2 linked regions of the Homo sapiens genome follow. The protein of the gene in region 2 purifies or fractionates together with the protein of the main gene of each other region. This does not show direct contact. Each region holds a gene or a part of one and is shown on either strand. Other genes may lie near its edges.

Region 1 (3,653 bases), on a different chromosome or scaffold from region 2:
ATAATTTTAGCTGTAACTCTTAGCCTGAAGTTTTCATATATTAGGACAATTAAATGTCATGTCACCCACCAGAATGCTGAAATGCGGCTTTTCCTAAATAGTGGATTCAGTAGATCTGCTAAGCACTGGAGATGTATTGGTGAGTAAAAAAGACCAAAATCATCTTGCCCTATGGAAGAGAACAAATACATAGTATTAATTTTTCCTCTGTAAGTGCCATGGGGAACAGTAAAACCAATGAGGGAAATTGAGGGATGTGGGGCTGTGTCAGTGCCCATGGAGGAGCCCACATGGGTATTTTCCCTTTTTTTTTTTTTTTTGAGACAGGGTCTTTGTCGCCCAGGGTGGAGTGCGGTGGCACAATCTTGACTCTCTGCAACCGCCGCCTCCTGAGCTGAAGCAATCCTCCTGCCTCAGCCTCCTGAGTAGCTGGGACTACAGGCATGCGCCACCACACCCAGCTAATTTTTGCATTTTTGTAGACAGGGGGTCTCACTCTGTTGCCCAGGGTGGTTTCAAACTCCTGGGCTCAAGTGACCTGAATGTCTCGGCCTCCCAAAGTACTGGTATTATAGGCATGAGCCACCACACCTGGCCCCTTGATGAATATCTTAATCAACTTTTACTCTCATTTTTCTGAATATCTTTTTTTTGTTTAACTTGTGGTTCTTGAATTTTTGTTGTGATTCTAGAGCCAATTTACTATCAGCAATTTCTAAAATCCCTACAAGTGACTTTTAACTTTGTGCAAAATCGGAGGCTCTGAAAAGCCACTTAATGGCTTTATAGTTTGTCCATGAATCATTGTTTTAAAATGACAGCTATCAGTGTGGCGGGTTTGGAATTTTAAATGATGAAAAATCAAATGTAGAGCAACAGAATCTAAGCTCTGTTTATTATGTGCATTAAAACTCATACAAGTTACAATTTTCCATTCTTTGCCTCATTTTATTGCCTTAAATATATCAGTGGTCAGTAAACATCTGAAATTCTGTAGATGAGATTGAAACTTTGGTTTTGGAAAAACATGCAGTAATATTTAGGCTGACTGGCCCATTTAGTAAATGAAGGGGTTCCAGTTTAATTTTTTTTTTTTTCTGGTGAAATCATGGTTATAATTCACTCATGTGGAAACTTAAGATTTGTGAACTGTCTCTTAGATGTTCGGTCTAAGAAGCAGATCACTTCCTATAATGTAATCACTTCTTCGAACAACAACAAAAAAGGGCTTCTAAAAATTGTGGTGAGTTTATTTAGCAAAGCACTATAAACCGAGGAACCTTTCTCCAAAAGTTCCAGGGGCAGAGAGGAGCTTTAGAATTCATACGGAATGCCACACATTTCCAGAGCATCTTAGGTTAGAGATGTGAGCAGGCTAGCACAAAGGGAAAAGGCCTACTAGAAAAACCTTGTTAAAACAATCGAGTTTAAGGAAGCAGTGAGGAAAAGGAGAGTAAGAAGTTGTCCCGGGTTGTTCAGCTAACAGGAACATGTAGATTTGAGACTCGATCATCTAAGTTTTTGTAGGCTGAAAGCAGTTGCAAGCCACAGATGTTAAGAAATTAGGCAAATGGATATTTTTAGTTAACCTACCTTGATGTTTTTATCATTTCTTTAGGCAGTAAATGGTCTTTGACTGAGTAGTACATGAAGTATCTTTCATTTGGGATTTAGTTTTATTGAGCCGCTTCAGTAATTCTGAGGCTGGGTGGTGGGTACATAGGTTTATTGCATTAGTCTTTCTTACCTTTTATGTCCTAAAAATACACATAATATATTTTTTAAATGTCCTTCCTGCCTGTTTCAGGAAAGCAGCTTTGGGTTGCAAAGCTGTTCTTATGAATACAATCTTCCCATCTCATTTCTTATTTCTGCTTGTGCCAGCAGTTTGCCTTATAACGCTGACTGCATGTGGAGTCTAGGTGCTGTTTAGCCAAGATGCTGTTGTCACTCACTTGCTTTTTGGTAATAGAAAGTACACTTACCTAATGTGTGCTCCTCCTTCATACTTCAGTCTGACACTGGAGGAGCCTTTAAAGGTTTTAAAGGTTTGGTGGTACCTTCTGGAGGAGGACGCTTTTCTGGATTTGGTAGTGGCGCTGGAGGGAAGCCTTTGGAAGGACTGTCGAATGGAAACAACATAACCAGTGCCCCTCCCTTCGCCAGTGCAAAGGCAGCGGCAGATCCCAAGGTAGCCTTTGGTAAGTAGCTCCCATCCCCCAGCCGCCTGTGTAAGTATCATCTATGGAAAATAGCTTTACAAAGATGTTTTTCTTATAGCTACCCTGTGTCTTGGAACTGTGTGAGCAAAACCAGGGTGATAATGAAAGAGATGGAACTTAGGGAGGTGTCGGTTACTTACAGAGTAAGTGGGTAGAGCACAGGCTTTTGATCCAAAACATCTCAGCTTTGTTCTCAGCTCTGCTGGCTACCAGTTGTGTGACCCTGGCCTCTAGGCCTCAGAATGTTCAATTTTGAAAGGAGAGTGGCCCTCAGAATTGACCTAGAGTCGAGAGAGAAAAGAAAATGCTATGTAGACCCTTTGTGTGCCAAGGGCTTTCTGTGTGCCTCGCACCAAACTGGCTACTGGGAACTCAGATGCGGTTCTCCGTGGCCAGGGTGCCTCCCACGCTAGGTTTGTTTGGGTATGGGATGTGTTGATTGCCTGATCCTGTTTTGAGGGAGTCAGTCAAAAACTCTTGGAATTAGCAACAGAGAATAGGATCACGGGTTAAAAGCTTGGAAATGATCCTGACTGGTTGGGTTGTATTTAGCTGATTATTCTGAGAGTATATACTGTTTGATTTTAATTTGGCAGAATGTTTAGTGTGATGTAAAATAAGTGTTCTCTGTTAAGTTTTGTTGTTGTTGTTGTTTTTTCTAAGTTGGAGTCTTGCTCTGTCACCAGGATGGAATGCAGTGGCGCGACCTCTGCTCACTGCAGCCTCCGCCTCTGGGTTTAAGCGATTCTCCTGCCTCAGCCTCCCGAGTAGCTGGGACTACAGGCATGCACCACCATGCCCAGCTAATTTTTGTAATTTTAGTAGAGACGGGGTTTCACCATGTTGGCCAGGATGGTCTTGATCTCTTGACCTTGTGATCCACCTGCCTTGGCCTCCCAAAGTGCTGGGATTACATCCGCGAGCCACTGTGCCCGGCCTCTGTTAAGATTTTTAACTACAGCCATCCCCTAGTATCCTGGGGATTGGTTTCAGCACCCCCTTGGATGTTCAAGTCCCATAGTCAGACCAGCATAACTCTTAGATAGGAAAAGTGAGTGTTCGTATCCACTGGTTTCTCATCCCCAGAGTACTGCATTGAGACAGGGTCTCGCTCTGTCACCTAGGCTGGAGTGTATTGGTGTGGTCTTGGCTCACTGCAGCCACAACCTCCCGAGCTCAAGTGATCCTCCCCCATCAGCCTCCCCAGTAGCTGGGATTATAGGTACACACCACCACACTCAGCTAATTTTTACATTTTTTGTAGAGATGGGGTTTTGCCATGTTGCCCAGGCTGGTCTCAAACTCCTGAGCTCAAGCGATTTGCCCACCTCAGCCTCCCAAAGTGTTGGGATTACATGCGTGAGCCACCACACCTGGCTGAGGACTGCATTTCACAGGTGTAGAACCTGCAGGTACAGAGGGGCGACTGTA
Region 2 (3,653 bases):
CCTAACAGCACAGTTTGCTATTTGATAGATATTGTTGTATCAGAACCTTTTTATTTGTGTGCTCGTATCAGGCCTGGAGTTTAAATGGGTAAAAGCCTTTCCTGCTGCTGTTGATGCCTTAATACTGTTGAAAATGAGACTGTGGTTGATTTTCATCAGTACCATATTTCTTCTGGAATTAAAGTATCACACTCTGAGAAACAAAATATAGAAACTTCCATTTTATTCATTGATTGATTGCTTGATTGATTGAGACAGGGTCTCACTCTATTGCCCACTCTAGTGTGCGATGGCCAAAACTGGGGCTTAGCCTGGGAGGGCACTTGGCTTTGCCCAGGAAAAAGTTTGAACCTCTCCTCATGAAGGAGAGCTGTCCCATAGGCAGTGTGCCCAGAGTAGCAGCTTGGAGGCAGTTCTGCAGCCATATTTATAGTCCACTTTTTATTATATGCAAATTATGAGGCAGATTATGCAGAAATTTCTAGGAAAAGGGTAGTAACTTCTGGGTCATTGCTATGGAAAGGGGTGGTAACTTCTGCATGTTGCCATGGGAATGAGAAACTGACATGGCACCCTGGTGGGTGTGCCTCATGGAAAGCTGCTTCAGCCCCCTCCCTGTTTTAGCTAGTTTTCAATTTGGTCCAGTGTCCTGAGTCCCACCTCCTGAGCCAAGTCCTACCTTCTACCTCATGACTACAGGAGCATGCCACCATGTCCAGCTAATTTTTCACAATATTTTTTGTAGAGACAAGATTTGGCCATGTTGCCCAGGCTGGTCTTGAACTCCTGAGCTCAAGTGATTTGCCCATCTTGGCCTCCCAGAGTACTGGGATTATAGCCGTGAGCTACTGTGCCTAGCCGTAACTTTGATTTTAAATGGCGGTTTAAACTCATTAGTAATTTTACTGTTTTTTTTTTTTTTTTTTTGAGACAGAGTCTTGTTCTGTCACCCAGGCTGGAGTGCAGTGGTGTGATCTTGGCTCACTGTGACCTCTGCCTCCTGGGTTCAAGTGATTCTCCTGCCTCAGCCTCCTGAGTAGCTGGGACCACAGGTGCATGCCACCACACCCAGCTAATTTTTTGTATTTTTAGTAGAGACGGGGTTTCACCATGTTGGCCAGGCTGGTCTCGAATTCCTGACCTCAGGTGATCCACCCGCCTTGGCCTCCCAAAGTGCTGGGATTACAGGCTTCAGCCACTGCACCTGGCCTAAACTCATTAGTAATTTTAGATCATCATTTTCAAATTGTGTGTTTAGGTTTTATGAATATGTTTATATTCAGAAGTTTGACTATTATTTTTTTTCATCTTTAAAAAAGGAAATTTTATTATTTTCCATCACATGAATGAACTTGGAGGACATTATATTTGTCAAAATGAGCCAGACACAAAGATTATTATTTCATGATTTCACTTACAAAGGGATTCTAAAAAACTTAATCTTATTGAAGTAGAGAGTAAAGTGGTGGCCACCAGACACCAAGGTATTTAGGAGACAGGAGGGTTTGAAAAGATGTTGATCAAAAAATACATAATTATAGTTAATAGAAGTTCAAGAGATATTTTTGTACAGCGTAGTGACTATAGATCAAAATAATGTATTTGTAGTTTTGAAAAATGCTGACAATGTCACTTGCTCTTGCCACAGAAATGTTAACTATGTGGCGTAATTACCTAGAATTAAGCATTTAACAATGTATATATACTTCCAAACATTATGTTTTACAAAATAAATATACATTTATTGATTACAGATGGTAATGGTATGAAAGCCACTGAAAGGGCAGGCGTTGCTTATGGTCTTATGACTGGCCACTTTGTGAACACAATAAACAAGTTTGCATTAAAAAAACCCAGAAAATGGTTTAATCTAAAAGTTGCCATGATCTTCAGAATTTTTCCAGAGAAAATGACCAAGAAGTTGACTACAGTTAGGTGACTAAGAATATAAGCTGTAGACACCTTCACCCACTAAAAAAAAAAATCACATAAAATAAGAGTGAGAAATTCCTCTGAGTTGTAATATCAATATGGAAAAGAAATATTATTCCAGATTTCAAATCCACAGAGATCATTTTATTATTTTGCAGCCTTTAACATTCACACTTAAAAATAAAAGATTCTACATGGAAACATGTGCTGTAAGTGTATCATAGAACATTAAATTTAAAATTATTCACTTACCATTAACTCTCCTAATACTTTAATTTCTATGATATATTTTCTAGCAAATTAGATAGATGTCACACTTTGTGTAAGAATTTTTTTTTTTTTGAGACAGAGTCTTGCTCTGTCGCCCAGGCTGGAGTGCAGTGGTGCAATCTTGGCTCACTACAACATCTGCCTCCAGGATTCAAGCAATTCTCCTGCCTCAGCCTCCTGAGTAACTGGGATTACAGGCATGTGCCACCACGCCCGGCTGATTTTTGTATTTTTAGTAGAGGTGGGGTTTCACCATGTTGGTAAGGCTGGTCTCAAACTCCTGACCTCGTGATCCACCTGCCTCGGCCTCCCAAAGTGCTGGGATTACAGTTGTGAGCCACCACGCCTGGCCTGTGTAAGAATTTAATAAGATTTTCCTTTTACAAACAGAGAAAAACAATGCTAAGTTACTTAATCCTCTCACCTGTGGACAGGTTTGCCTTTTATCTTAACTGATTTGAAAGTTATATTGATAAGCAAACTCTCTAGTTAAAACCAATTTTTGAATGCATTAAATAAATACCAACTTTCTCATCAAAACCTACAAAGTACCATGTAAAATGACATGGCATGAAGACAACAGTGAGAAAACTGTAGCCATCACATAGAAAAAGAAGGAGAAGGGCTGTGATGAATACACAGTTAGAAGACACATAATAGGACAAACAAAACTAAAGATAACTAGGAAATAAACAGAATTTCTCTTAAAATTCAGCAAGATTTAGCTTTGCAGCATGGAAAAATGTTATCTCCACATGAAGAATCAATCTTATTTCTTCACTATTGATATTTTCCTTCTCTGACTTGAACTTACAAACTAACTGTAGCAGGAATATTTATGGCTTATCATGGAGCATCCGTTACACAGCAAGTACTGTGTGTTTGTTTGCTACATTTATATATAAAAAACATCCTCATGACTTCTGAAGCATCCCTAGTTCTTACCTGAACAAATTGGCTCAATAAACATATAAATTTACTTATGTCAATTATAATGAGAATAAAATAAGTAAAAAAAAATACAGGCTTATGTAGAATTCTTTAATTAAAAGAACAAATGGAATGTCCTAATTAAATGAAATGTAATACACAATTTTGGAAATACATCTAAAAATTGTTTTGTGTGCACTACTATATTTTATAAAAATCATTCTTATTAGTCATGACCAGCTCACATAATACCTCATAAACTATAAAAGAAAAAAATTATAAGAGACAAGAAAATTATAAGTCTAGCATGAGAACCAGGCAAAGAAAAACAGAAAATGTTCATGGGGAGATTCTGAATCATAAGTCAGAAGATTTTACAGTAATGAATTTAATAAAAAGCAGAGTATAGATTTGCTTTCAGCATTTTTGAGGTTTTCAGTTTTCTAGTAAATTTGTCACCTTATTAAGATATTTGTTTTGTTCCAATATTGCTCTATTCTTCTGAAAACAGGTATAAACTC

Evidence for each region.
Region 1: the proteins of ERO1A (region 2) and NUP50 fractionate together in Homo sapiens (co-fractionation; one large-scale study listed by BioGRID). This does not show direct contact.

The regions. Positions count from the first base shown.
Region 1 is NC_000022.11:45,173,880-45,177,532, forward strand, and holds part of NUP50 (nuclear pore complex protein Nup50), read left to right. Parts: intron 1-2,014; coding exon 2,015-2,201; intron 2,202-2,362; exon of another isoform or gene 2,363-2,503; intron 2,504-3,653. UniProt on the Homo sapiens protein: Component of the nuclear pore complex that has a direct role in nuclear protein import. Actively displaces NLSs from importin-alpha, and facilitates disassembly of the importin-alpha:beta-cargo complex and importin recycling.
Region 2 is NC_000014.9:52,653,986-52,657,638, reverse strand, and holds part of ERO1A (ERO1-like protein alpha isoform 2 precursor), read left to right. Parts: intron 1-3,653. UniProt on the Homo sapiens protein: Oxidoreductase involved in disulfide bond formation in the endoplasmic reticulum. Efficiently reoxidizes P4HB/PDI, the enzyme catalyzing protein disulfide formation, in order to allow P4HB to sustain additional rounds of disulfide formation.